Homo sapiens: one gene and its partner. The protein of the gene in region 1 purifies or fractionates together with the protein of each later gene. This does not show direct contact. Each region holds a gene or a part of one and is shown on either strand. Other genes may lie near its edges.

Evidence for each region.
Region 2: the proteins of C1QTNF3 (region 1) and COLGALT2 purify together in Homo sapiens (affinity purification with mass spectrometry; 3 studies listed by BioGRID and IntAct, with this or other methods). This does not show direct contact.

Annotation. Positions count from the first base shown.
Region 1 is NC_000005.10:34,030,470-34,045,856, reverse strand, and holds the start of C1QTNF3 (complement C1q tumor necrosis factor-related protein 3 isoform b precursor), read left to right. Parts: upstream 1-2,643; 5' UTR 2,644-2,731; coding exon 2,732-3,034; intron 3,035-10,098; coding exon 10,099-10,210; intron 10,211-12,398; coding exon 12,399-12,553; intron 12,554-15,387.
Region 2 is NC_000001.11:183,931,707-183,947,093, reverse strand, and holds the end of COLGALT2 (procollagen galactosyltransferase 2), read left to right. Parts: intron 1-1,529; coding exon 1,530-1,662; intron 1,663-2,770; coding exon 2,771-2,898; intron 2,899-6,306; coding exon 6,307-6,513; intron 6,514-8,056; coding exon 8,057-8,333; 3' UTR 8,334-11,260; downstream 11,261-15,387. UniProt on the Homo sapiens protein: Beta-galactosyltransferase that transfers beta-galactose to hydroxylysine residues of collagen.

The DNA of each region.
Region 1 (15,387 bases):
TTCTGACCCCAATTCTTGAAGGCAGGCTCCCTGGCAGCTCTCAGACTGACCTTCTTCTCTCTGCCATTGACCCATTATTGATTTCTTGGGAGAGATCAATAATGGGCCAATGGCAGAGAGAAGGAGAGATCCTTCTTTGCAGAATCCTTCTCTGTAGATCTTTCTCTATAGCAAGGCAGGAGAACTCACTCTGGAAAGACAGATGGAGTCCAGTTCTTTCCAGCTGCATAACACAAGACAAGTCACTTTACCTCTGCAAGCTTCTATCACCTCATCTATAAGATGGGATCATAGGTTTGCCAACAGAAGTCAGTGAGATAAAGCAAAGTAGTACTTGGCTAGCACATGGTAAGTGCTTAACAAATTATGGATATTATTATTTATTCCTTTTGAGTCAATGAGAGGATGGATCAGTGATTCCTAACCCTGGATGCACCTTAGAATCATCTGAGGGAAGCTTTTAAAAACTGCCCAGGCCCCAGTACAGATTCTGACTCAATTGGTCTGGGATAGAGTCCAGGCATTAATATTTTTAGAAGCTCCTTGGTTTAATATGCAGCCAGGGTTGAGAACCACTAGAATAGATGACAGGATTGAAAACACGAATGGAAAGTCTCAATGCGGTAGAAAGTCAGAGGCTGATTTATAGTTACTTAGCAGTATGGCCCACTTCGTGGGGGATGCATGATGGTGAGAGCCAGAGACAGCTCTTGGAAAACCTGTGAATTGGGTGACCTAGATTTCAGAGCCACTGCTTGCTTTGTGGTCTCCCTGTGACATTTTCTCTGGGCCTCCCTGAGGAGGGAACACCCCCACTGAGACACTGCTCTGGGCTTTCCTTCCCACAGCAAAAGCCCATCCACTTGCTCACCCTCCAAACACAGGCGCCATCCTTTCCCCAGCTCCAGCTCCAGGTCTGGGAAGAAAATCCTCAGTTACTAAGAATAACAGTTTGACACACTTCCCTTCCCAGGGACATCTACCTTTTAATGGTGGACATGACAGAACTCAAGGAATCCTCCAGTGAGGAAGGTTTAGATGCTCAAGGGTAGACTTGTAGCACAGAGATGGCTGAATTTTTATGCCCTACTAGGTGGGAACTGACTGCTTGGACTGAACATGACTCCCAAGGCCCCTGAACTGTGGCCTGGAGAGCTTTTAGTTCACAGAGTAACTCTCTCCCTCCGTCCCCAGCACCAAACCCTTTCCATGTATAAGTGTGGACTCTGGAAGCGGCTGTTCTGGTAGCTGCAGGAGGGGCCAGGCTAGTTTTGACAGTTCTGGCCACTTCCAGAGATGGCTCTTGGTTCTCAGGCCCTTGGCTGAGCAATGGGGGCAGCTGTCAACAGCTCTCTCTCCTCTCCCCTTTCCCCAGCTGCTCTGACTCTTCATCAGCAGGCTGAGCTTCTCCAAGCCTCAGTTTCCCACAGTGCCTCCTCGCCCCCTTCTCATCAGACGCTTGCCACCCATGCTATTTACGGTCCTGGGTCTCTCCAGTTTTCATGAGAGAAGGCCAGTAACATTTTCTTAAGCGAGTGAATGAGTAATATAAATAAAATCATATGTAAATAGAAGCAATTTTTGATGACAAAACTGTTTAAATTCTCTTAATTTATTATCCTGAAGCAATTAGGAATGTCCATTTTCTTTTTGGCTGAATTAATAAAAGTATAGCAACTAAAGCAAAGACATGAGAATCCTCTTAATCTGGATACGCTGTGTTTGAAATAACGTGTTTGGTGCTTTCCACTTCTTCAGTTTTGTTATTTATTTATTTTTTAAGTAGAGACAGGGTCTCACTAAGTTGCCCAGGCTGGCCTCGAATTTCTGGGCTCAAGGGATCTACCTGTCTTGGGCTCTCAAGGTGCTGGGATTACAGGCATGAGCCACTGTGCCCGGCCCCGTTTCTATTTTAATCAAGAATATGTCAAAAGAAAGAGGAGCCAGAGACAGCCTTCTCTTAACACAAAGCAGGGTGTTGTATCTTCATCTGACAATAAGTGACTTAGTTAACTTTGATTTAATTTTGGCTTTTGGGAAGTCATGGGGAAAAGAAGTAAAGCTGAGGGTGGCGAAATACCTTTGCTAAACCCAGAGACACTGCACCTGAATCCTGCTCAGTGTTTTGTAGGCAACCAACTGCCTTCTGCCACTGGTATCCGGAAGGGGAAATGAGTTACCTTAAGTGGGCCAAAGTGGGGAAATACTAACAGTACAGCTAGAAACCAAGAGCTGTCGTGAAAGCCCTGAATGGGTTCCCACTGCTATTTCAGACAAAACTGATGCAGTTAAGCCTGAATTTCCTGGCAAGCACAAGGGTAGATTTTTCCAAAAGGCTTTTTAGACTGCAAATACACAGCCTTTCCATGTCTAATCACAAAAGCAAACTGCTGGACACATGCTCTCTGTTCCCAGCTGGTTGTGTATGTTTTCTTCACACTTCAACAGAAACGTGCCAAGGTGTGACATTTATGAATTTCGCCAACTGGGAACTGTGCACACAAATCGTTCTTGCTTGTGGTGTGGGAAAATGATGAATGGGGGCTGTTCTGCCTGGGGAGGAGGGCTGCTGTCACTCTGGCATGCCTACAGCCTTATTTATTACACACCAAAGTATAAAACCACTCCGCCGCTGCAGCTCTCAGCTCCAGTCCTGGCATCTGCCCGAGGAGACCACGCTCCTGGAGCTCTGCTGTCTTCTCAGGGAGACTCTGAGGCTCTGTTGAGAATCATGCTTTGGAGGCAGCTCATCTATTGGCAACTGCTGGCTTTGTTTTTCCTCCCTTTTTGCCTGTGTCAAGATGAATACATGGAGGTGAGCGGAAGAACTAATAAAGTGGTGGCAAGAATAGTGCAAAGCCACCAGCAGACTGGCCGTAGCGGCTCCAGGAGGGAGAAAGTGAGAGAGCGGAGCCATCCTAAAACTGGGACTGTGGATAATAACACTTCTACAGACCTAAAATCCCTGAGACCAGATGAGCTACCGCACCCCGAGGTAGATGACCTAGCCCAGATCACCACATTCTGGGGCCAGGTACTCAGAATTCTCTTCTAAGGATTTTTGTGAAAGCTTAATGAGTGTTGTTGTTGTTGTTTTGTTGTTGTTCTTTTTTTGGCTAAGATTCTTAGAATCAATGAATGCTTTCGAGAAGTTCGCTAAGCTGCTTGTGAATCTCTTTCTGGATTGCTCTTGGGTACAAGAGAGACTGTCGGTCTCTGTTAGAAAATCAGCAGAGGCAGCAATGATGTGATGGGATAGTGGCCGTAGCATCACCCCATCAGAAAGGGGAACCTGGCCAGCCAGCTTCCTGCTATGCTGGGACTTGATTTCCTTCTTGCTCTGTTGGTCCGGAAAGGAGTGCTGACCCATGCAGACAGATCGGTCACTGTAGACAATCATTTGTTGTTCTTAAGAGAATTGGGCTTTCTTCATCCCTTCCGGCAGGGAGAAGCTGCCCTTTGAGTTTGTCAAAAGCAATCAAAGTTTTTTTACTTTGATTTGTGAGTATACTGTGACATTTCATGGCAGTCTTGTTTATTTGATTTATAGCATTCTAGATTGTTAAGCCTCTCTGTTCAGCCTGTTTTAAAAAGAATTAAAGAGTTAAATAAAAAATAAACTGTTTGAAATGCATACCTTATAGCATGATTTGATGCCTGATAATCACAGAGGACTTGATCTATTTCTCAGGTTATAAATTCAGCTCTAAGGAAATATCTTTAACTCTTGGTAGTATGAGAGTGAGTTAAGATTTCAGTATAGTGAATTGCAAATTGGTGAAACTCAATGTAATTTAAAATATTAAGTACAGGAAGAGACATATTTTGAATTACCCTCTAGACATCTAGTATGCTGAAAACTGTCAGAGGGGGCAAGAAGAGTTACTTTGAGTTATATGATATTTGAACATACAGGTTTTTACTACAAGATTTGATTACTTTAATGCATTAAATAGGACCTGAAGAATTTCTTGTAATTGAAATCTAAATCCTTCCTACCATGGATTCAGAAGTTTGGGTTGGTTGTTTGGTTATATGGTCAGACCAAGATCACACACAGAATCAATTGCAGATTTGAAACTAACCCAGAACTTCTAACTTGACCACACAAGGCAGTTGCCCAAACCATTCTGTGGGGGATGCATCCAGAGAAAATTGCTTCTTTAAGGAGCCACGGAAGAAATGATAATCTCTAAATATGATCCTATCTTTTGAAAACCACTTTTAGAGATTGTCTATTCATCTGATAATCTTTTGGCTAAAGGGTAATGATTAGCACTAATTTGTGTGTGGGTTTTTGTTTGTTTTTGTTTTGTGGTGAAGATATTTTCACTTGTGTCCAAGACTTGATCTGGACTTTCCATTTCACACATGGTATCCTTCTTGGCCAACAGATGGTATCTTTCCTGGCCATGACAGTGTGATTCCCCCAGAGGAAGCAGAAGGAAGTTAAAGGTTGTCTTTGGTCATTATGTCCTGACAACCAACACCCAGCAGGCCACTGAAATTCAAATCACATTTCTCCTTCACTCTACCTTCTAGGTTCCTGAAGTATTTTCAAACAAACCACCAACAGGAGATATTGAGGATATTTAGAGTTACTGACATTCTGGAAGTTTTCACTACAACTCCTCTACCAACGGCTATGGAAACCACAGTTTGCATTTAGGATTGTGCTATGTTCTTCCTTCTTTCCCTACTTCCCCTGTCCCTCTTCTTTGATCGTAATTCAATTTTCCTCTTATTCATTCAGTTCCCGTGTATTTCTTGTGCTTCTACTTTGTACCAAACTTTAAAAGGGGGGCCAGGGATATATAAAGATAAATATGCCTGAGCTCCCATGTCCAAACCATCCTGAAGGGCTGTAGTAGAGATAAATTTTTGTTAATTAAATTAAGTTTAATTAAATGCCATGTGTTAAATAAAGTCAGTACATGAAAGGCAATTGGGCAAAAGTGTCAAAGTACTGATAGTTTTTGAGCTGGATCTTAAAAGATGGTATTAAAAGAATGACTATCCACAGCAAATTAAAAAAAAAAAAGTGCTGCAACAGAGACTGGAAAGCCTGTGAGGAGTTGGCTGTGGCTGAAGCTCCTGGGTTGGGGATGCAGGGGTGGGGGTTGGGGGGACGACGGGACATTACACGACTTTAGTGCCAAGAAGGATTCTGCTAGCTGGTTTAGGAGCTTAGATTTTGCTTTGCTAGCTAGGTTTTGTTTGTTCATAGCAGGACAGTGAGGTAATCAGATATATGGTCTGGAAAGATGCTCCAGCTGTGGGTTCATGGTGGAGTACAATGGCCAGAGATCTGGGGTGGGCAGACCTGGGCTCTTTTTTCCTGGTATTTTCTTCTCTGTAGCCTCTTTTTCATTCACCTTTGTCAATCTCCCCTCCTTCTCCCGGATACCCATTTCTCCCTCCTCCCACTTCCCTTCCTCTTCTTTCTTTTCCCTTTTTTTGGGGCAGGAGGTTTAAAAAAAGGAGCTATGACTCTCCTTCCTAGAAGTCACTTACTAGTAGTAGAGCTCAGTTCTGCATCCCTACCCCTAGGCCTCCATCTGCAAAATTGATGGAGCATTTCTTAGAGACAAACTCTTTCTCGCATGCTGCAAATTTACCTGCCTTTTGCATACAAATTTGTCCTGCTTTTGGGAAAGGGGATGATAAACAAGGAGGTCATAAATAGCAACTACCTACATGTAATTTTCCCTTACCTAGGAGAAAACTTCTGAATTAACACATCCCTTCCAACTTGTTCTAAGAGTTCCAACAAAAGACTCAACAATGCAAAAGCATTGCTCCATTCAACTGAACTTTGAAAGACAAGGCCAGAGGAAGGAACGTGTAATGCAATGCTGCTGAAGGGTTCTCACGAGGTGCTCGACTAGTAGTAACCAGAAGTCTCTCACTGTTCTGGTGGCAGCTCTGTGCCCTCAAAGTGCCCTCAAGTAGCTTGGTCTTGCACTTCCAATCCTAGTTGGCTCTAGCATTGAGCAACTTCATCTCCTGGAGCTGAATTCTTGTGCCTAGATACTAAAAACAAAATGTTTCTAAATTATTATTTGAGGCTTTGGAAAATACTTTAGTATCTTTGCATTGTAGAGCTGGAAAAAAATGCGAGACGACTGTAGTGGAAAAGTGGGAAATCTTCTCTTGTTTCATCCTCTGAAGATTCTCTGAAAATTAACTGTCCAAAGGCAGATCAATAGGAGAAACACACATACCGCATGGGGATGATTTCCCAATAGCCCAATGTGGTATGCATGCTTACACACCCTTCCACGTAGGGTAGCAGGGAGTTGGGGAATGTAGAAGTAAATTACAAAGTTCCTCTGAGCCCTGAGGGAGGTGCTGTTACCAAAAGTGAATCCACACGGGTCTGCAACAACCTCAATTCTTGGCTCCTCAATTCCATTGAGGGTCATAAGGCGGAAGGAGAGACCAACGCAAGTTTTAGAGCAGGAATGAAAGTTTATTAAAAAGTTTTAGAGCAGGAACAAAAGGAAGGCAGGTATACTTGGAAAGGGCTAAATGGGCAACTTGAAAGACAAGTGCACGGTTTGACCTTTTGACTTGGGGTTTTTTTACGTTGGCATACTTCTGGGGTCTTGCGTTACTTCTCCCTTGATTCTTCCCTTGGGGTGGGTTGTCCACATGTGTAGTGGCCTGCCAGCACTTACTTGGGAGGTGAGCATGCATAGTATGTTTACTGGAGTTGTAACCATGCTCACTTGAGGTATTCTTCCCTTACCAGCCAAATGCTCCTAGGAGGTCATTTGCCAATTAAACTCTGCCATTTTGCCTCTTAATGCACATGCTTGAGCCCACTTGCGCAACTCCTGAGATCTTATTGGGAAGCTGCCGATAACCAGTTTCAGGTTTTTGCTATCTTTAGGAAGACTGCCTTTACCCGGCACTGGCTGCAACCAATTATTATTTTAGAGAAACAGTTAAAAGCCACTTGATCATCACCTGATGATCACCTGATATTCCCGGTCAGGTGGAGCCCTCCCCTACCCTGCTCATGTCTGAGTAGCTACCTACTGTAACAGTATCAAGAAGGGAAGGGAGAGAAATTTACTGTGAACAGAGGTTGTCTTAAAGCTTCCCAGATTATGGCTCCTAGCTTCCCTCAGGAAATAGAAAAAAAGCCTGTCTGAGCCTTGTGATGACTCCCAGTCTCTTCAGTTCTCCAGTGGTTAATCTTTCCTGGTTATTTGATGAGATTCCTAAGGAGGGGGTCTTAAGACAATTGCATTTCTTTTGGAAAGATGCTTTCTTAGTCAAATAAAGAAATTCCAGACAGAGTCCCTCCCGGCACTTCTGGAAAGAAGATCAGAGAGACTGGGAGGCAGGGAAAGGTCAGAGAGAGACCTTGGATCTGAGGCTTCTCTCTCTTTTTTTAATAAGAGATTTGCCACAAGTCAGTTTTCCCTGTGATAGCTCTTCCAATACGTCTTTCTTAAAACACCTAAGTTCAGAAGGATCATGAGGCCCCTCTCTCATGATCTGCATTCATACTGAAAATCAAGATCAAGCAAGCTTTTGTCCTGCTCTGCAGAGCCTTCCATCCTCCCTGTGCTCACCTTATCTTCGTGGCTTATTTCTGAAGCCTTCCATTTCCAAAGCACTCAACACGCTGAAGCACGTATTTTGAAGAGTCATTTTCTGTGCACCAACACCACCTCATCCAATCCTCTGATTTAATAGCCAAAAACAAAACAAACAAAAAAAGATGTCTGGAGAACAGCGACTTCTCTAAGGTCACACAGCACCATGATGGAAATTCTGGTTTCAGTCCAGTGGGTGTTTCAACATTCCTAAGCATCTCAGTATTTCCATTCCATTCCTATATCGATGGTTCCACTTGAGGATTTTCCCTCCTTCCCCTCCCTTCTCCATCCTTAAAATTCATCATTGGCAGAGCCCTGGATTTTCTGAGGTTTAAAAGGCTGAATTTCACATTGGCAAAACCATAACAGGAAATATGGAATCCTTCCTTCTCAGATTACAGTTTTGGATTAGAAGGTGGGGTGTGCCGTGGTGTCTTTGACTTTCCAAGTGTCCTGAAATCCCTCAGATAAAATCCCTGAGATGAAATCCCTCATCTCAAACCAATGGCTTTAGTTGACTTTTCTTCCCCTACCAATTTGACAGAAGGTTTTCATAGACTCTAGTTCTTGTCCAGGTTTGAGCCTGGTAGACTGAAGACAAGACTAGGAGTTAGCTCTAAGTTATAGCTCCTGATCAGGCAAGACTTGGGTTCTGAGAGGTTGCAGGAGAATGCTTGTGCTACAGATTCTGTTCTGTGTTTTCCCTGAATAGCTTGGTGGAAAATTTTAGGACAAAGCAGTGAGAGAGTGAGAACAAAATTCAAGCCCATTTTTTATTAAAGAAAAGAAAGTAAGGTCTAAGTGTTTAACTGTGTGAAGTTTGATCCAGTTCTCTGCTTAAATTTTTAGTGACAAATACAACTTGAATTTTAAATTCTTTTTTCCTCCCTCTGTGTCTCCTTTTTCTTTCTCTTCTTCCCTGGCCTCCTTTTTCTCTCCTTTGCTTCATTTTTTTCATGAATCTCTTAGCAACAACATGCTGTTTTCAAAAGACCGTTGAATTATAATTGATGTCTAGGAACATTTCCACAAGTATTTTGTATGACATAATTAATAGGCAAGTTGCCAGTTTAGATGGGAGTTCAAATTTCATAAGCAACTTTAACTCTTCTGTCAATCAACTTCCACTAGGTCTTTAGCTCTTTGACGGTAAACATACATTTTAGAAATTTATCTTTGTATAAATAAGCATTTCACTCAGTGTCATACTTGAGCATGTTTAGTACCCATTAAGTGCTTATTAAACATTGGTTCAAACAGTGAGATAATCATTTCACAATTTTTTTTTTTTGAGACTGTGTCTTGCTCTTGTCGCCCAGGCTGGAGTACAATGGTGCTATCTCAGCTCACTGCAACCTCCGCCTCCTGGGTTCAAGTGATTCTCCTGCCTCAGCCTCCCAAGTAGCTGGGATTACAGGCATGCACCAGCATGCCTGGCTAATTTTTGTATTTTTAGTAGAGATGGGATTTCACCATGCTGGCCAGGCTGGTCTCCAACTCCTGACCTCAGGTGATCCACCTGCCTCGGCCTCCAAAAGTGCTGGGATTACAGGCATCAGCCACCATGCTCAGCCCAATCATTTCACATTTTAAAGTGGAATGTGTGAAATAGAAATCATGTTAAATAGTTGATTTACTGATAAAGTTAAAGTTGTTTCAAGATGTAGATAATTAATAAAAATGTATTGGACTTATAGTTAATAGCAATGTATTATATTCTTGAAAATTGTTAGGAGTAGATTTTAAGTGCTCTCTCTACAAAAACAGTATATGAGACAACACATATGTTAATTAGCTCAATTTAGTATTTTACACTGTGTACTTATTTTATAACAACATGTTATACGTGATAAATATATATATAATTTCTAGTTGTCAGTTAAATAAGTAAATAAATGTATTGGACTAAAAAATACTTTATTTCCTTCGTTTTCTAAGACAATTTAAGTGTGCTATGGCTGTTTGAAAAACTAGTGTTACTATTCAGAATTTCTAAGAGATCTTAATCTAGCTCTTAACTCAGTATCATGGATATAGTAAGCATTTAAAAACAGTGCTTAAAGTGGATAATTCTTGTAATTTGAGGACCATCTACTCAATTTAGCTACATCTGGGGCTATGGCAGTTGGAAAAGAGAAAAGGCTTCCAAGTCCACTTCTGAAGGAGTTTCTTCCTTTGCTGTTACAGTAGCAGCAGGAAGGCACTTTCCAGAAATAGGACCCAACTTCCCACCCCCACCCACACGCTTTTCAAAGAGCATCTTCCTCTATTGACTTTCTTGTTGCCTTTTCCTTTGATCATCAACTGACCTTAGCTACTCCCTGACCCTTTGCCATTGATATCTCCACCCCATCCCATCTTTTGTGATCTTGCTGTGATTCGATTGGAATTAAGCTTACCTAAGGGCCAAGGCCAGTGGAAATTTAAAAATCCTAATTGCTCACAAGTACCTTTTTTTCTGAAGCTTCTCTTTCTGTCTTTTTAGTCTCCACAAACCGGAGGACTACCCCCAGACTGCAGTAAGTGTTGTCATGGAGACTACAGCTTTCGAGGCTACCAAGGCCCCCCTGGGCCACCGGGCCCTCCTGGCATTCCAGGTAAGGATGAGCAAGACATACTGTCAATCTAATTGCAGCCTGAGCTAAAGTAGGAGCAAAGGGCAAACCTTAATAATTTGGGATCACTTCTGTGTGATCCAAAGGATCCGCTAGACTCTTGGCACCCTGGAATACCAGGTTCATAGGCTGGGAGGCTCCTCAACAGCATTGAGTCCGAAACGACCAGGTCATAGTCTTCGTTCCAGTATATCTGCCACAGCATGCTTTATGAAGGGCAGAGTAGAGCCAAAAGCTTACTGCTCTGGGCTACAGCCATCTCAATGCCAGTCACTGAGCTGTGCATCCTTCTGTGTGACTCTAGGTCCAGCTAAGTGCTTCTTCCTCCAGTCTCAGGATCTCTCCATGTTCAGCCGTCTCTCAGTTGACTCTCATGCCACTCTTGACCTCATGGAAACATTTTTAGGCTCCAGTACCATGTAGTGGTATGGGGAATGCTCTGGAGCTACATGAGACCCCACTAGACCAGCAATTCAGTCATCTGTACTGTGCCAATGCCACCAGGCATAGGAGAGTGCCGCGGGCCTGCTGGTACCCTGGGTCAGTCCAGGAAAGGGTAGCCCAGGTCTCCTCAATATGGGGCTCCCAAGCCTATCTTGGGTTTTATTGTCTTCATCCTCAGGTTAATCCCTAGGGTAGGACCTCATCTCAGGGTCTGGCCAAAGTCCACTGGCTCTTCTGTGACTTACTCTCATTGATGTTAATATTTATCAAATGTGGTTCAATTTTTTTTCTACTTTTGAGTAGCTTCTTGCACAAAACCAAATTTACAGCAAGAAAATCTTATGTTAAACTTTAAACTACACTTACTGGCTTGGAATCTATGTCATTGGCCATCAAGGACAGCAGCCAGCAGGAGCAATGATGTAGGGGTAGGGCCTACTTCGACCCTTGTAAAATCTTCTCAGGTCTTAACTCTTGTGAGGTTACACAAAAGATTGGCCTTGGTTAAATGTTTTCTAACCAGGAAATGGCTTTGTCACTGAACACATTAATTTGTAAACACAGTCAAAGTTCATCCATTTGGTAGGGTTGTAAGCCTGGTATGATAACCAACCAAGGGTAGCATGCAAAATGAACAGCAAAAAGCCTGAAATTTAGCAAATATTAAAAATAAAGAAGAGGTGTAGAAATTGTCTCTTGTTGGCAAAGGGAAAAGTTAAAATTGTTTTCCAACTCTTGCTTTCAAAATCATTGCTGTAATTTGTTTAATGAATGAGTTTACCTTTTCCCCAGTTATAAAAGTGATGTGTTTTTTGTAGAAAACTTCAAAGAAACAGAAAAATATACAGAATGACATGAAAATTACTCATGTTCCACATTTAGAAAAGAACCTCTGTGAATATTTTTCTGTAACTTATTCTTGTCTTTTTTTCCCTATGGATATAATACATAAACACATATTTTTCCAAACAAAGATAGTATCATGTTATTTCTATTTACTCATAACTTTCTTTTGCCTGAAACAAAGTCTGGCTCTTTTGTCCAGGCTGGAGTGAAGTGGCATGATCCAGGCTCCCTGTAGCCTTGGCCTCTTAGGCTCAAGAGGTCATCCTGCCTCAGTCTCCCAAATAGCTGGGACTACAGGTGTGCACCACCACTCCTGGCTAATTTTTTAATTTCTATTTTTGTAAAGATGGGATCTCACCATATTGCTCAAGCTTGTCTCAAACTCTAGGGCTCAAGTGATCCTCCCACTGTGGCTTCGCAAAGTGTTGAGATTACAGTTGTGAGCCACTGTACCTGGCCACTTATAACTTTAAAATCTAAAAATATCATGAATATCACTATATCATTAAATGTTTTTCTTCAGCCTTCTTTTTTATGACTATATAACATAGTTTCTAGAATATGTCATGCCCTCCTAGTATTGGTGATTATATAGGTGGTTTCCAATCTTTGCTATTTTAAATGATAATGTGATAATCAGAATTGTACACAATTTTTCCTCCAAGCCTCGCTTCAAAGGATAAACAGGCTTTGGAGCTTTAGGGTATCTAAGGCTTCTTTCAGAGCCTATTGCCCTATTTAGATGATGATACCCCTTGGTTATATTTGGGATTATTCTGAATGGTCCCCTTTCATAATTGAGTTTGGATAGTATGTCTAGAAATGGATGGTAAGTATGAGTGACTGGGTTTTCTCATGTGATGATGTCTGGTTGTTTAAGGAAACCATGGAAACAATGGCAACAATGGAGCCACTGGTCATGAAGGAGCCAAAGGTGAGAAGGGCGACAAAGGTGACCTGGGGCCTCGAGGGGAGCGGGGGCAGCATGGCCCCAAAGGAGAGAAGGGCTACCCGGGGATTCCACCAGAACTTCAGGTAAACCATCCTCGGTACATCTCCTGGTGGCTTTCCAACCTGCCTGACCAAAAGGGGCCAGGAATCAGGATGTTCGAGCGCTTCCTCAAGTCTTCCCCAATCCTGAGTAAATCTGAGTCTCAGTTTGTTCATCTACATCACAGGATGTTTGCATAAGGCCCATACTGTCCAAAAGGAGGACTTAGATACTATTCTTAGGGAGGAGAGACATTTATGAAGGGTGAAATCTAAGTCCCTCATAGAACCAAATCCAAGGCAACCCTAAATATAAACTTATCTCCTATTTTCCCAAATAAGATGTTTTAAGAATGTAATAAGATGTAATAAGGGTTTGGGCCAACTTGAATGTATAAACATTTAAGTATATAAATGGAATGATGAAATGTCTAGTTATAATATTGTATTTATTAACATTGTTATATTTACATATACTAATCCATACATAAATATTGATATATATTGTTTTCTCTCAACTCAGATTTTGTGGTATAATTTTTGTTTATTTTTTGAAACAGAGTCTTGCTCTGTTGTCCAGGCTGGAGTACAGTGGCACGATCTTGGCTCACTGCAACCTCTTCCTCGTGGGTTTGAGCAATTCTCCTGCCTCAGCCTCCCTATAGCTGGAATTACAGGCATGCATCACCACACCTGGCTAATTTTTGTATTTCTAATACAGACGGGTTTTTGCCATGGTGGCCAGGCTGGTCTCAAATTCCTGGCCTGAAGTGATCTGCCTGCCTCGGCCTCCCAAAAAAGTGCTGGGATTACAGGCTTGAGCCACCACACTTGACCTTGTGGTATAATTTTTACTTGAGCTTTTCTTGTCAGAATCTTCTTTATCAATGGAGAATTTCAGTTTTGAGCCATCCACTCAGTGTTCCAGACCAGATTACATTCATTTCAGCATAAAGTTTAAAAAATCAATTTATGAGGTTAAAACTGTACATTTTTTTCCAGGCTCAAGTACCCATTTACCTATTCTTTCTCTCTCTTTTAAATGATCATTAAAGTTCTTATTGCCAACACGATCTTAAACTTGTAAATGTGAGGTTAGGTCACAAGGAAAATTACTAACTTTGGGTTATTTCTGGAAGGTGGAGGAGGGCTAATATTTTGAAATGGATCCCCTCTGGGGGACTTCTATCAGCATTGAAAACTAGCATTTTTTAAAAATTAAGTTTCTTTCTGACTAGTGTCTTCCCAAAAAAAGTAACTTGTGGATAAAAATAAAGTAACTGAGATAAAGTACTGCAACATGAGAGATTTTTGAAGAACTAGACTATAAAGCGATTCTTGCCTGAAAGATCAATTAGGGGGAAACTGTCTTTCATTTGTGCGTGTATGGTGGTGGTTTGACCCTGTATAAGTTCCATCATTTTTCTGGGCCTTGGTTTCTCAAGTTTAAAATAGCTTGAATAGTTAGTGTGTTACTCTCATTTGTGGGTTTTGCAACTTTTAAATGAAAGCCGTTTTGTTTTGTTTTGTGTGTGTGTGCACAGGCTGGAGTGCAGTGGTGTGATCTTGGCTCACTGCAGCCTCCACCAAGGTTCAAGCGATTCTCTTGCCTCAGCCTCTGGAGTAGCTGGGATTACAGGTGCGTGACACCATGCCCGGCTAATTTTTTTGTATTTTTAGTAGAGACGGCATTTCTCTATGTTGGCCAGGCTGATCTCAAACTCCTGGCCTCCAGTGATCGGCCTGCCTCGGCCTCCCAAAGTGCTGGGATTACAGGTGTGAGCCACTGTGCCTAGCCAAATGCTGTTTAATAATTTCAGCAACCTGGGATCCATGTGCCAATATAAATTTACAAACAAAAAGGCTAGAGATGCCACTCAGCCAGGTTAAGGTATTTAATAAGACAGAAGATAAACATCTCAAAGCTAGACACTCTAACCCATAACCTATGAATGGTAAACCACGGAGAAGGGGCCCTAGAGTAGCCAGTTTGATAGAGAACATTCTGGGCAATTATTAAATTTGTCCCATCAGCTATTTTACCCTAAAATCACAATACAATCATTTGGGTCTTACACAGATTGTGAAGGAGGGAACTTCACATTCTTTGAAGGTCCCAGCAAATTAAAGAATTTATTAATCTAACTTACACTCAGTTTCAATGACTCATTTGGACGAAGGATTAACTTTGACTTTCACAGCTCATTCTTCAATGGTGGTTTTAAGCAAAAGCTTTTCTTTTCTTTTCTTTTTTTTTAACTTTTATTCTAAGTTCAGGGGTACATGTGCAGGTTTTTTACATAGTTAAACTTGTGTCGTGGGGATTTGTTGTACAGATTATTTTATCACCAGATATTAAGCCTAGTACCCATTGGTTATTTTTCCTGATTCTCTCCCTCCTCCCACCTTCCATCCTCCCATAGGCCCCAGTGTGTGTTGTTCCCCTCTATATGTCCATGTGTTCTTATCATTTAGCTCCCACATATACATGAGAACATGCAGTGTTTGGTTTTCTGTTCCTGCATTAGTTTGCTAAGGATAATGGCCTCCCGTTCCATCCATGTTCCTGCAAGGGACATGATGTCATTCTTTTTTATGGCTGCACAGTATTCCATGGTGTATATGTAGCACACTTTCTTTATCCAGTCTATCATCAATGGGAATTTAGATTGATTCCATGTCTTTGCTATTGTGAATAGTGACAAAAGTTTTCTTGACAGGCGGAATTGTCTCAAGGCTTTTAAAATTATTGTTAACATTTTGTATTTTGAACTTCAACCCTGTCTTTGGATATTAGTAGTATAGAGGTGGCAACAATAGTAGTAGTGGTGGCAAGAGGAGGAAGAGTACTACCCCATTCTCCACTTAGGGGATATAGA
Region 2 (15,387 bases), on another chromosome or scaffold:
TCTGTTAGGTGCATATGTATTTATAATTGTTATGCCTTCCTGATGGATTGACCTTTTTTTTTTGAGATGGAGTCTTGCCCTGTCACCCAGGCTGCAGTGCAATGGCACGATCTTGGCTCACTGCAAGCTCCAGCTCCCAGATTCACACCATTCTCCTGCCTCAGCCTCCCAAGTAGCTGGGACTACAGGCACCCACCACCATGGCCGGCTAATTTTTTGTATTTTTAGTAGAGATGGGGTTTCACCGTGTTAGCCAGGATGGTCTCGATCTCCAGACCTTCTGATCTGCCCACCTCGGCCTCCCAAAGTCGTGGGATTACAGGCGTGAGCCACCACTCCCGGCCCAGATTAACCTTTTTATCATTAAAAAATGTCCTTCCTTGGCTCTAGCATGAATTTTGTCTGAGATTTATTTTGCCCAATATTAGCATAGCTCTGCCAGCTCTCTTGTCATTGCTGATTATATGGTATATCTTTTTCTATTCTTTTACTTTCAACCTATTTTTGTCTTTTAATCTAAAGGCTGCCTCTTATAGATACCACATGGTTGTATTAATTTTTAAAACTTACTATGCCAAATTCTTCCTTCATTGCAGTGTTTTATTCATTTGCCTTCACTACATTTTTTTCCAGATCCTTAAGGTCAGCCAGAGGTGAGAGACTAGGGACTTCTCAAGTTTTTCCTGGGCGTGTGGACAGCCCTGAATATGCCTGGGGCCTTCTAGATTCTCAGGGATATTTTGGAGCAAATCAAACTCCCTATGGACCTCTTATTCCTTGGTTTTTCCTTTTAAGTTTTTTGGTGGGCTTCTTGTTAGCATCAGCTGATAATGCTTCTCAAACAGCTGTAATGTTAAACAGTTGTTGCTCATGGGTTTTGACAAATGACCTGCAGATAGTGCTGTTCACAGAAAATGAACTCTGAGTCAGGTCAAATCAAGACAAGCTCTGAGAATGTAGCTTTTCAAGGAGCTACTAGACAGGTTGAATAGAGATTATTTTCTGGGGGCAGGTCTTTAAGGGAGTCTCAGTCCATTTTGTCCCTGCCAGTGGCTTCTGGGTTGGTGGGGTTTGCCGCTCTCTTAGTTGTGAGGCTACTGGTTTTCAAGGCTTTTGTAGGGCTGGGGTGAACAGGTTAGGATTAGGGCAGCTGTGAACTTCACAAAGCTCACTGTGTTAACAGAGATTCAGCAGTAGGTCTTGATCAAACACTCCTTGGATTATTGCAGTACTTTAACTAATTTCCATAGGAGTGTACTTATTAAATCTTGTCAAAAAACTGATGATGCTTAGAACTATGTTGGGCACTATGAGGGATACACAAAAATATGATACCCTCTTGTCTTCCCAGACCTCATAATACTAGTGTGACACATTAGCCTGGAGGAACTTCTAAGGAATAAAGGGAAGCCTCTCTGTCTTTGTCTGTGTGGGGGAGGGGTGTTTGCAGAACTAACTCTCTCTTTCTCTGGCCTTTGTGGTGGGGACCTTTGACTTGTTAATCTCCAGACGTGTTTTATGTGATGCAGGGCACTCAACACAAGCCAGCTGAAGGCACTGAATATTGAAATGCTGCCTGGCTATCGAGATCCCTATTCCTCCAGGCCTCTAACAAGGGGTGAAATCGGCTGCTTTCTCAGCCACTACTCAGTCTGGAAAGAGGTAAATAATGCTTTATTCAGATTGCAGTTTTATGATGAGGAGAAAGGAAAGCAGGCTATCGTAGGTGAGTTAGGGCCAGATGTAAAGTGAGCCCGCAACTGTTCTGGAAATGTGCATGAGAGCTGCTCCTGCCTTGTGTCTCCCTCTGACCCAAGACCAGCAACAAAGGGGCAAGGAGGAGTAGCTTTGGTGCCACTTGGGGTGGTGACGGGGGAGACACCCATGTCCTGTGTGCCACACTCTTATTAATTCATTATCATCATTAGCAGGAATGCCTTCTATTATACCTATTATGACATCACTTATTAAGTGATTTTATACAAGAAATCACACAGAAGTCATGTGAGGTGGGTTGGGAAGGACAGACCACCTTTACCGAAGAAGAAATTATTAAGTAGCTTGACCCGGTAAGAAGTGGCAGAGCCAGAAGTGGAACCCCTGTCTTACAGATCAAGACATATCTGGAGCAGATATTGGTGTGTGGGGTTCCTGATAAACAGTCAGTTTCCACAACCAAAAAGAAAGTCCCTGAAGAAAGGCCCCTTGAACACTTTCTCTTTTAATGATCCAGTCTATGCCTGCCTTTGTTTTCTTTAAACTTTAAGTGAAATGTGATAAATAGGTATAAAAAGATATAGATCAAAAGATACAGCTCAGGGAAATTTCACAAACCAAACAACACACCCATGTTAATCAGTACACAGATCCAGAAGCAGGTAACCAGCATCCCACAAGCACCCCCCCACCCCGTACTGCCTTCTGGTCATCAGTCCCCAAGGGCAGTCACCATCCTGACTTCTAAAGGCATTGAATAGCTTTACCTTTGTTTGTACTTTCCCTTATATGAATGGAATCATGCAGTATGTGTACTCTCCTAACATGACATTTAGGAGATTCACCTATAACGTTGCGTTTAATTGTGATCATATATCCTCACTGCTGTGAATATTCCAAAGTTTATTATCTATTCTACTGTTGATGGCCATTTGCTTAGATTCCAGTTATGAATCTGTGCTACTAGACTCGTGACTTTTTAATACTTATTTATCTAATAAAAATTGGGTTTCAAACTTTTCATAGGGTATCTTCCTACTGATGACTTTTGCAGGTAATTGATCGAGAGCTAGAGAAGACTCTTGTAATTGAAGACGATGTGCGTTTTGAGCATCAGTTTAAGAAGAAGCTGATGAAGCTGATGGATAACATTGACCAGGCTCAGCTGGACTGGGAACTGATGTGAGTGACAAGATGATCTTACGAGAGGGCTCTGAGAGGCACTCAGTCCTTTCCAATGCGCAGAGAGCCCCACCTCCACAGCCAGTAGGAGATACAGCTTAAGCTTCCACTTATCTAGTTTTCTTTCCATAAATGTTCTCAGAAATAAAAATGGGTAGAGGTTAGCCACTGGATTTTGCATCCTTCTACTCTTCAGGGTGGGAAACTGTGGAAGATTGTCTGAGACCTGGAGTCGGCCTGCAGATCAGGGACCTTCAGACAGAACCAAGGTGTGGCACTGAGCACTTACTTAGGAGCACAGCAGAAATCCCACCCTCAATTAACGTGGCACATGGAGTGGGTGTGAAGCTGGAGAAGAGGCCATTTATTCAAGCTCTAAAGTCCTGTGTCATATTTAAGACTCAGCTCCCGGGACAGCAGGTTGCCTCTGCAGCTTCCGAGAAGGTGGGAGGTTAGAGGGTCAGCCAGGGAGCTCCTCTGTTGGGAAATGGGGCTGCACAAACATGAAGAACATGGACAACTAGATTTGGGGAAGGGTCTGAGGCTGATGCAGGAAAACCAGGCTCACCAAGGGAGTGCTGGCTCTGAGCTGACATTTAGTTAATGTTCTTTGTCTACTCTCTGGGAATTGAGTGGCTTCTGCTTTTTTCTTCCCTTCCCTTTCATTTTTCCTTCCCTTCCCTTTCATTTTTCCTCTCCCTCTCTCCCTTCCTCTTTCCTTTTTCTTCTTCCTCCTCTGCCTCCTCCTTTCTCTCTCTCATTTTCTTTTTAAAACAAATGACACTTTCAATTTCTCTCCAATGAAGCAGAAAGTTCCCAAGCATTGTGTTTGCTCCCAGCTGTGTGTCAAAGGCAATTCATCAACTCTGAGCCTGCTTCTTTGGAGCAGCTGCAGCAGAGGAGCTGTCCCTGCTTCTCCCACCCACAGGCGGTATTTAACTGTGGGCCCAGGTGGAATACTTGTTCCCTCAGAAAATGGGCCACTCTGAGCTCAGAAGAAACCTAGCAATGGCTCAACTAATGCGTCACTGTGTAATAAGACACCTATGCCCTGTCAGATTTCAGTCATGTGGTCATGTGGTTTGGTTTGGCATTCTGCACAGTCCCTTGAGATCACTGTTTCTTCCTATATCCTCCAGAAGTCGCTGCACTTCAGCCTTTCTCAATGGATGGCTCCGCAGCCTGTGGTTAAGGCCTCACAGGCCTGGAAGCTACTTGATGTCCACGTGACTTGTATAAAGGCAACTTCACTTAAGCCTCATAATCACAGAAGACTGAGCCCAGAGAATCTAAGGTTTAGAGCTGGCATACGTTCCCGTTCACATGTAGTTCGGTGGGTGCATTTCTCAGGACAAAGTACCGACAGATGCAAGAAGGAAGAACAGTTGTCTTGATAAGGATACAGGAAAAAAATGTTTTCTAAATTTCACAGGTTGATCAAGTCAAAATATCCCCTTAAAATCTATTATATAGTCTTAAAGAACTGTAACAGTTTTAAATTGTACCTGTTATTTTCTAAAACAAAAAAGAAACAAATGTTACTTAAACCTAAAACATGAAAGGTAATAAGCTGTTCATGATTGCCACATTACATCTTTCCAGGAAAAGAAAATAATAAAAGGGAAGAATAGAACAAGTCATTGGAATCATTGAGGGAGTGTTGTTCAATAGAAATATAATGCAAGCCACATATGTCATTTTCAGTTTTCTAGTAATCACATTAAAAAGGTAAAAATAAATTAGACTAAATTAGTTTTAATACATTTTATTTAACAAAAATATCCAAACAGTATCATCATTTTGGTATGTAATTAATATTTTAAAACCATTAATGACATAGTTTACCTTCTTTTTTTTTTTGTACCAACTCTTCAAAATCTGGTATGTATTTTACACTTAGAACACCTCTCAATCCAGAAGCTAAATTTTCAGCTGTTTAAGTAAACTGGGCTGGGCGCAGTGGCTCACGCCTGTAATCCCAGCACTTTGGGAGGCCGAGGCGGGTGGATCACGAGGTCAGGAGATCGAGACCATCCTGGCTAACACGGTGAAACCACGTCTCTAGTAAAAATACAAAAAATTAGCCGGGCATGGTGGCGGGCTCCTGTAGTCCCAGCTACTCAGGAGGCTGAGGCAGGAGACTGGCATGAACCCAGGAGGCGGAGCTTACAGTGAGCTCAGATTGCACCACTGCACTCCAGCCTGGGCGACAGAGCAAGGCTCCATAAAAAAAAAAAAAAAGTAAACTGTCGTCCTACCAAAACAATGAACTTGTTTCATGGAAAAAATATATATATTTCACACAGCTTCAACATTTAAAATTAAATTAATTAAAGTTAGAGCATTAACTCAGCACCTCTATCACTCTAGTTCCTCTCAAGTGCTCGATAAGAGTTTCCCTTCCACTGGATGAGACACGAGAGAAGCTCAGACTCCGTAATCTGAAGAGAGAGTGGCTGGGGATATATGTTTGTTGTTCTCAGAAGAACTGAAGATTGAACATAGACTTGTTCTACAAATCCTGGGATGCTTTCACAAGGGGGAATCCCTTGAATGTTGAAAGAGATTGTTTTAGGGCAAAATAGAGGAAGTACTGCTTTACCTGGCAGGCAAGAAGGAGGCAACTCCTCAGGTTGCTCCAGTCAAGCCCAAATCAATAGGTTCCGGACAAAAGTAATGGAGCACAGATCCATGGGTAGACTAGGGAAGATGGGAGTGGCCAAAGGTGCATCCTGTGTTGTAGAAGTTGTTCACGGAGGACGGAAGGTGCCTGGGGGGCCTTTCTCAGAGCAGCATGTCTGGGAGGAAGCCTGGCCACAGCTGGACGAGTGTGAGGCAGGAGAATGCCTGTCAGGAGCTGTCATTCATCCTCCCCAAAAGGAACCCCTTAGGGCCACTCTTGGGTTCCCAGAACCTTCACTGCAGACTGACTCTTTCCCCCAGCTTATTTGGTCCTGTGTTTCCCACCAGCACTCGGAGTGCTGTGCAGAAGGCATCCAAGGCTGACACTCTGGGGACCTGAAGACAGCAGCCTCAGGATTCTCCCATCTGGCCTTTTTTTGTGCCTTTCCAACCTCTGTAAACACAGCTGGAAGCCCCATCCCATCTTTAAGAAATGATCTGAAAGATCTTTTAATCTTACGACATCTTACTTTCCGTCTTGAAAACCGTCCACTAGGCAGGAATAGTGGGGGTGTTGATAAATGGAGCTAGCAAAATGGCCCCAGTGATGGCAGATGGCAGTCCTGACTGGCGATTGGATCCACTTTTGGATGTGATACATCATTTAATGACAGACAGAGTCAGTCCAGGATTTCAGAGGTATCTATGTAAACCAAAGCTGTGCTTCATCCTTATCATGGCATAATAGTCAAGGTGGAATTTTTCTCCTCTGCCATTTCCTTACAGTTATATTGGTAGGAAGAGGATGCAAGTAAAGGAGCCAGAGAAAGCAGTGCCCAATGTGGCAAACCTGGTCGAAGCCGACTATTCCTACTGGACCCTGGGCTACGTCATCTCTCTGGAAGGAGCACAGAAGCTGGTTGGAGCCAATCCTTTTGGGAAGATGCTGCCAGTGGATGAGTTTCTGCCAGTCATGTACAACAAGCATCCCGTGTGAGTCTCCCTGAACTGCCTGCCTTCCCTTGGGCACAGCCTCTTCATGAATTATGCTCTCCATTTCTGGTAGTACTTGATATTTTCTAAAGTTGTACTGCTTTCCTAAATGATCTTCTCATAATTATGATTAAGAGAGCCTAACTCAGGTGATTTATCCCTTTGTACAGATGGGAAGGTGAGGCAGAGATGGTGAGTGTCCTGCCCAGAGATTCTTGTAATATCCAGTTTGTAGTTGAACTGAATGTAATGTGCTTGGTCCCCTCCTTGTCTTTGCTCTTCTTATTTCCATAACCTCATACACCTCAAGGTGAAGGCCATCTTCCTAAGCACCTCAAAATTTCCAGTTCCTTTGGCTCAGGTCATTGGGTACTGTTGGCTAAGCAGAGATACCCATTTTTGCATAGCTCACAATCTGGTCAGGAACCCAGACTCATGAACAAATCATCATGATATATTGTGATTCCTGCAATCGCAGGGGTGTGTAAGAGGTTCAGGGAGTGTGGACCTGATACCTGAGCATGATGTCCATGGAAGAAGGGCAGTGTGATGCTTGGGGCTCCCATAGCCCAGGAGCTTACCCTGACCTAGCGCTTATCAAAAGGTGTGGCAATTAATGATTTACCTGTCAATCTCCCCAATAAACTATAAACCCTTTGGGGCAGTAACAGTCTTATGCCTCTGTGTCCTTAGAGCCTAGTCCAAATGCTACACATAACAGCAGCTCCTAAATCATTAATGAATGATTCCTAAATTCATTGATGGAGCAGCATTCGTTCTAACCTTGGCCCCTTCTCTCAGTTGCTGGGTGATCTCGTCACTAGATGGTCTCATTTTAGCTGTTGAGATTTCCTGTGCTGCCACCAGTTCATTTTGTCTCTTGTCCTCAGTAAAAATGGAGTTGTGTGCCCTCTTGTATATAACATGTCAGAGACTGACTTTATCTCTGTGTCCTAGCAGAAACATGGAGGTCAAACCATTATCCCCTAAACAAAAGGGAAATTACTACATTCAGATGTCACCTCATGTACTCTGCACAGGAGCCCTGAGAGGGAGGCCAAGTCATCCGTCTCCTTTACACCTGTTGGAACCGGAGTGGTGAGCAGGGAGCTAGAGCACAAAGCCAAGCCTGCGTGCCTCTAAGCCTCCACGTGCCACATGCCCCATCACTGCTGTCCAGATGTGAGGTGTCTCATTTATTAATCCCAAAGCAGGGCATTTTTGGTGAAGTGATCGTATTTATTTATCATTATGGTCTAACAGGGCTTACTTTTTAACTTTTGGAGTCAGACCTGAAATTCATCTTTTAAACTAGTCTATTCAAATACGTCAGAAATGTCCTGATCTTTTTGCTTGGGAGCTTGTCTTTGGAAAGCTTTTAAAGAAATATTTGTGTTTGTAGGCTAAAGTTTTTCACAAATGACACAATTGAAATAATGAAATGAACTCATGAGGTAACCAGGAGGCCTCCTTCACTCTTTGTCCCTGTTCCGTAAGTCTCCTTTCCGCCCCCTCATGTGTCCGGCCACCTTCTTGTTTTCAGAGCCGAGTACAAGGAGTATTATGAATCCAGGGACCTGAAAGCCTTCTCTGCAGAACCCTTGCTCATCTACCCTACGCACTACACAGGCCAGCCGGGGTACCTGAGTGACACGGAGACCTCCACCATCTGGGACAATGAGACAGTGGCCACCGACTGGGATAGGACACATGCCTGGAAGTCCCGGAAGCAAAGCCGCATCTACAGCAATGCCAAGAACACAGAGGCCCTGCCACCGCCAACCTCCCTGGACACTGTGCCTTCAAGGGATGAGCTATGAAGGCTCCCTGGGAGTGTGGCCCACATCAGTTCAACATCCTCTGGTTTTTCTAAAGGGCTATTCATCTGTTTGCTCCAGTTTTCTGTTTTGTTTTGTTCTTAGTGGTCACAGTCATCTAACCAAAGTGATCTAGTGTGATAGATCGAAATTAACATATTTTTGACCATGGAAGGAAATAAGGAAATTCAACCCAAATTTCCCAAGACGGCTGAAAGACAGGTTTTTTGGAAACTGTTAAGATAAACTGTAATCCAGACACCTAATTCTTCAGTTCACTACTCATGTGATACTGATTCCCACATTAAGGTTGAACAACATGGCTCAGAGTCTTGTTCAAGAGAAAGTGATCACCGAGCTGTCACATCAGCAAATATGTAGTCAAGGCAGCCAGGCCAACTAGACCACACTTATTGGTCTAGTTTGTCCGTTTTATATGACATTGAAAACTTGTGTGTGCAACTTTTGGGGGACAGGAATCACTTAAAATCATATTTATTTGGCTTTTTATTTAAAGGATTCTGTCACAAGTCTTATTGAAAAGTAGATTTTTTAAAAAAAAAAAATCTTAGTCCCTGTTATCCAGTAGGGGTGGGTATTTGGGTCCGACTGAGACTTGGCCTGTGACCATCATGGCAGTTGGAGTTCTCATATAGAGGTGACCAGTTTGCCATGTGGATATAATTTAGTAGATATTTGACAGTTTGTGTAGGTATTTGAGGGAAAAAACTCAATGTTTGGCTTTTTTATTATGGCCACTCGAGTCAGGATGCTCTATTTATAAAGATAAATGTAATATATAAAGGGTGAGGACTGGCTGTGCATCCTGCCCTGTCCCGGGTTTGCGCGCTGCTACAGAGCTTCACGCTCTCCGCTCCACCCCTTAGCCTGGGAACCCACCGCAGGTGTGAGTTCTGTGAGTCACTGCTAAGAGACAGAGCACATTTTCAGGCCAGCAACTATCCTTGCCAGAGTTTTTTCATTATATTTTGAATTATTTATTTTACAAAATGGGCGAAGATATTGTCTTTAGGATAAGGCAGAGAAACAGATGTTGCAGACTTCCACGGCACCCGGGGGAGTGGTGGGTGTGGACACATTGGTTCGGCAATCTGATTCTCCTGAATTTCCCAGCCAGGCTCTTGTGGGGAGGCCTGTGGATGGGGGGATTTGAACTATTTGGAAACAAATGATTCTCTATCTCAGGTGAGAAACCTGGTCAGAAACAAAGGGCTGGTCACCTGATTTAGGCCAGCAACCAGGGAAGCTCTTAGAATCCCAGGCGGACACCCTTTCTCAAAAGATATCCCCTAAGAGTCCTTTCTGCTTTCTTCACAGATTGATTTTATGTAAAATGCAGAGTTGGACTACACGATTTCTTCCCACTCCACAATCTGTCATCCTAGTATAGATCATGGTGGTTTCCCTCAAGTTTATGTTCTCATGCCCTCAATCTGTAAATTTTTGTCTCCAGAAAAACCCTCCCAGGCATCCCATACCAGCACCGTTCCTCATCACTGTCCATGCACCATGCAGCCATATGGGGGGCCGTGCACACCCCAAACCCTGAGCTTCACACTTAAACTCATGGGGAGGGCCCTTCAGAGCAGAGTCCACAGGCGGGTGGTGCTACATACACAAGCTTAGTGTACGAGTGTAAGATACACTTTAAGCCAGACACCTAATTCTTCAGTTCACTGCCCATGTGATACTGATTGCCACATTAAGGTTGAACAGCATGGCTCAGAGTCTAGAGAAAGTGATCACCAAGCTGTCTCATCACCAAATAGGTAGTCAAGGCAGCCTCATCTCCCCAGGTGAGGGGCGGGTCCCCACTTTAGGACAAGAGGCAGCTTGCCTTCCACCAGACGCCAGCCTCGGCCTTCCTTCCCGACTCACTGTGGGTACCCTTCTACACTGACCAGCAAGCTAGGCCGCTGGAGGAAAGGGAACTCACCCAACTCTAAATTGTGCCGCTTAGACTTAGCTGTCAGTGTGACTTCCTTTCCCACCCACCCCCAGAAAAACAGAAAGAGCATCTGGGGAGCGAGTGAAAATTCCTTAGGTGATTCCTAAGATTTCCTTGGGTATCTGGTTTTTGTTTTCATATTTGAGTGTGTGCATGTGTGCATGACTTTAATGACTTTTTTAATGGGGTGGGAGGTGGCTGGGGTGCTGGGGTTGAAGGAAGTTTGGGTTGATTTTTGTGGTGTTTTGTTTAATAGAGAATTTTTTTTTTCCTGTTCCCCTGTCAGCTGGTCTGACAGATTTAAGAACTCTCATTCTTAAAAGACTTTGGACTTAAATTCTAGCATTTTAGACTAGGACTGTTCTACTGTGAAGAAAGTTCTGTCTCCTTTAGCCCGGTTTGTTTCTCCCTGCTCAGGTCTAGAATCCCAAGCAGTGTTCTTTTCTGGTGAACACTGTGAGCCGCAGATGTGACTTTTTTTTTAAAGTCATCTCTTCAGCAATCCAGAGGTTCCTTGACCTCATTATTTGTCCTATCTCTCCCTTATAGTCCTAAGCCAAGACATTTGACCTTTGACATTTGACCTTTGCAGTGTCATGTGAGGGCGTCAGTATAGAGGCCTTTGCATCTGGGCCTGGCACCCGCTCTCTGCCTCTGGAGGCTAAACCCTGTCTGGATTTCTCTTGGGATCTAACGTGGGATCTTCTGGACAGACAACCGTGACATCAGCAGTGCTGGTGCTGCTGTGTGTGGACTGAACACCTGCACTTTGCAGAGGACACGCTGCATGGGCCCCGCTTGCGGTTCATTCAGGCCTGCTGCAGGAGCTCTGAGAACAAGAAAGAGTGGACACCCGTTCCCCTGCATCATCTGTCTTGCGTGCTATTTCAGAGTGGGGAAGTGATAAACTATTTGCCTTCTGGAGCTCTTTGTGAAAAATTAAAAAAAAACTTAGCTCAAAGATATGATTGTCAATTGCTTCCGCAGGCACTGATCAATGGCCAACGCTGCAGAGATTACCAGGTCTGCCCTTGACCAAGGATGTCAGAGTCAGGGGGAACCATCACTGCTGTGTGATCCCCATGGCAAATGAGGGGAGGGTGGTTGCTGCCCTTACTGTGCAGTGAGGGTTGTTTTAAACTGATGGGTACTGTTATGTAAGCTGAAAAGGATTCCAAGGTACAGAAAGATGGAAGAGAGCCCCCACTGGGAGGGAGTGGAGGTGTCCATCTTGCATTTTGTGCTACAGGTCAGCCTATCCGTTCATCAAAAGATACTGAGATACTGTGATACCAGTCCAAGGCCAAAGAGCTTTTTCCTGGGGAAAAATAACAGCAGCAACAAAAAGAAAATCCTTGTTGATCTCAGTGACTGCTTGAATTTTTAGATCAAGCTTACCCCTAATCTCAAAAACCAGGCTGTGAACACTGCCTTGCTGCAGGCTTTGTGCTGGGCACTGAGATGCTCAGAGAAGTAGGTAAGGTCCCTACTGCTGTGTGGGGCCCGCAGTCCAATGGAGGAGCAACATAAAGCAGGTGGCTGCCAAACAGGATGGTTTTATTTCAGAGATGAACAAAATGGGCAGAGGAGGACTGTCAGGGCAGCTCTGCTGAGAAGGTGACATTTGGGTTGGGTTTTGGAGGATGAATTGGAGTTCAGAAGAGGGAGGAGGGCTGGGCACAGTGGGTGGAGATGCTGTCCAGGCATTGCCTGACAGGACTATGAAAGGGCCAAAGTGGGATTCATGGGAACTCAGTAGGGCAGAAGAGTTAGGCATGTGTTGGGGTTGATAACAAACAAGACTGAGACACAATCATGCTGGCAAGGCAAGTTGGCTGCCTCCCTCTCAGGGCTGTCTCCTTCTCAGGGCTGTCTCATCATAAGCACAGAGCCCAGCATTTCTGGGAGAATTCTAAGTTTGGTTACCATCTTGACAGATAATACAGAGGCTTCCAGTAAAATGTTGATGTCCAAAACAAGAAATATTCCCACTCAGCTACAAATTTGGGAATCTTATGGTTTTTCCCTTATGATTGGAGCAAATCCCTCCCGCTAGTAACTATAAAATAAAGATGTGTCTTCCCAGGAGGCTTTCTATAACGTGCTTTTGAGACATTCTTGCCAACTAAACAGAGGAAAGAAATGATCCAGAAGTGATCTCCCTGACAGAAGTTAATTCACTAAGGAGTTAAATAATGACAAAGTAAAGTTAAAATGAGGCTGGCTATATGAGAAGAAAATAGCATGTAAGGGGTGACACGTTCTGAAAACTAAGAGTAGACAGCTTTGGAAATGTCACGCCCACATGATGTTTTGTGGTGATGTTTATTATTTCAGGGGAACCGGCTGTCCTTCAATTAAATGCAGCTGAGGGAGGAAGGCCAGCAGGAGAGGAGGGGCATATGAGGGGCTTCCCTGTGAGCCCGCGGCCCTAAGTCAGTGTAGGGCAGCTGAGACAAGAACCAAAGTGTGGACAATGTCCTTTTGTACCTGCTTGGAGAAGAGAGAAGTAATGATGGTAGATTTTAGTACATTATATTACAAAAGATTACGTGAAAAATGGTGCTCCCTCTTATCCCAGGGACAGAGCAAGAGGAGTTTAGGTGAGCTTTCAGGAAGAATTCATTGACAGAATTGTCAGACACTGAATGGGGTTCCAAGGTAAGTGGTGGAATGGCTCCATTAAACTTTGTTGCTGGGCAGAAGAGTGGCTTCCTTTCTGCTCTGTGAATTACTGAAATGCCCTAGTATTTTGCTTCCACCCATGGATGTGCTAATATGTGAGCTGATCTTTGTTCAGTAGCCTCTGTGACACCAGCTGTGTTGCTTCCAATCCAAAGCCATCCATCCTCCCATCTGCCCTCAAAAAGAGTGGAAAGAATGAAGAATCGTCTCTGAGGATTGCCTTCTCTTTATTTTTAATTTATGGAGTTTGTTTTTATGCCCGTCCCTGTAATTCTCCAGCCTGGCTTCTCTGGAACAGGTGCTTTAGTAAACTTACCATGTCTGAGCAATCCTAGGGCCCACAGAGCACTAGCTCTGCCCCCATGGACCTGGCAAGGCTTTGATGGGGGTTTCCTATTCCACGGGTGGCTGGGTGGATGTCTGGGCTCTTACTAGTGGGGGAATTTGATTTTCAAAGTGGAGTGGGCAGCTCTCTCTCTCTCTCTGTTCTTAGATGCTTGGAAATTAATCAGCGACAGTTTCTTCTCCCAAAAGGAAATGAGAAGTTTGGAACAGACCCCCAGACAGGAGTTCAGTTGTCCAGGCATTTTGATGGTGTGGCCTGAAGGGCTTTAACTGCTTTTAAAAATTGCTAGCATAAATTGTGAAGACTTGAAGGGGATGATATTGTTGCTCAGGCCTAGCTCAGGGGAGGAAACCATGAGCAGAGTTGAGTGCAAGGGACAGAGTGGTGCAAGCCTGTTGAGAATCCGAGGGGAGAGGAAAGAGGCAGCTTCTAGCGCACCACACACGGAGCAAAGTCCTGGTGCTCAGAGCACAGTCTGGGAGAGAAGTGCAAGGAGTGGGGAGAAGAGACTAATGCAAGCCCATCGCTGGAGACAGTGATGCCAGTGCACAGGCCAAGAAAGAGGAGAGGGAACCAATGGGGAAAATAGTGTGGTAGGAGGGAGGCTTCAAATGGAAGTGGTGACAGCCTTGTCCTTAGAGTTTTATCCTTTTAAGTCTGCAACTATGGGAGAGATTGAGTTGGTGTTGAGTTGAACCGCTTGCACAGGAACAAGTGAAATGTCCAGTGCCCCCAATGCTTGGGGAAGAGCAATAACTCACAATCAAGCATCTCCATTGTCCCTGGACAGGGCCTCTGGAACCAGAGTCGAGAACCCCTTCCTGTAGGAAAGACACAGGGACTGTGGACAGACACAGAAGGGGGTACCCAGGAGCAGGGAGCAGAGTTTCTGGTGAGAAAAATCCACCCAAGGAGGTGGGGACTCATGGGAATCGCTGCCAGCTCTGTGTGGTGGCCGATCTCTCAGGCCCTGAGAGGGACACTCCGGCCCAGGGCTGCTTGACATCAGCCAGCCTCTCCTGTCACAGCCCGTCCAGCGAGAGTGCCCACTGCAAAGCCTGCAGGCTGGCCAGGGAGGCTGCGCCGGGCCCACATCCCCGTCTCTGTGAGCCTTTTTGGACCCCAGCCGTGGAACAAGCTGCAGGAGCCCTGGACGCCCTCCAGCTCCGTGAGTCAGTCTCTCCCCAGAGCAGCAAGCAGGCTTAGCTTTTCGCAGGGTGCCGTTCCACACGTGGAAGCCCCACCTCTAAGAGTTTCACGTCTGGACCATTTGGCTCCTCCCGGGAGGAGGTTGGAGGGCTTCTTTGAAGACATGACTTCCCTTAGGCCAGAAGCTTCCCAGGAATAACAGCAACTAACTCTTGTATCATGCACCAAAGTGAACCGCACTTTCCCTACGTGTGCTGTGTAGTTTAATACAGCATGAACCTCAAGAAGTAGGAACTATTCATTAATCTCTATCTTTCAGATAAGGCAAAGAGCTAAGGGAAGCAACTTGCCTAAGGTAGTAAGTGGCCTGGGAGTCAGACCGAGGCAGTCAGATCTCACCAAACTGCATCCACTTCCAAGCTGCTGGGGGATAATGTGTCTCATTTCTTGTTTTCTCAGTAAAATTTAATGTTTTAATCTCTCACTCTTGCACTCTGTCTCACCACACACACACACAGCCTGATACATAAAGCTGGCACTTCTAACCCATGTCTGTCTCCCCTGTGAAACCTCATATACTGATTATTCAGCTGGTCATACTGCAAACTCTCAGATAACATATTTCTGCAGACTTGGATGTTAGATACTGAATAAATGAGGATCAGAAATCGATGTCAAAGGGCAAGCTAACAGTCTCATTTAGAATGCTTCTCCCATTTCAAAACTGGTGCCTTGATTTTTTTTTTTTTTTTTTATGGCAGGAACAATTCAGAAACAGCTTAAATCATTCAGTCTTCTTCTTCTTTTTTTTTTTTTTTAACTTGCTGCATTGGTAACCCTTTTCATTCTTGTGTAAGAAATTGGAACTGTAGCACATAATGATGCTTTGGTATGAAATAATGGTAGGA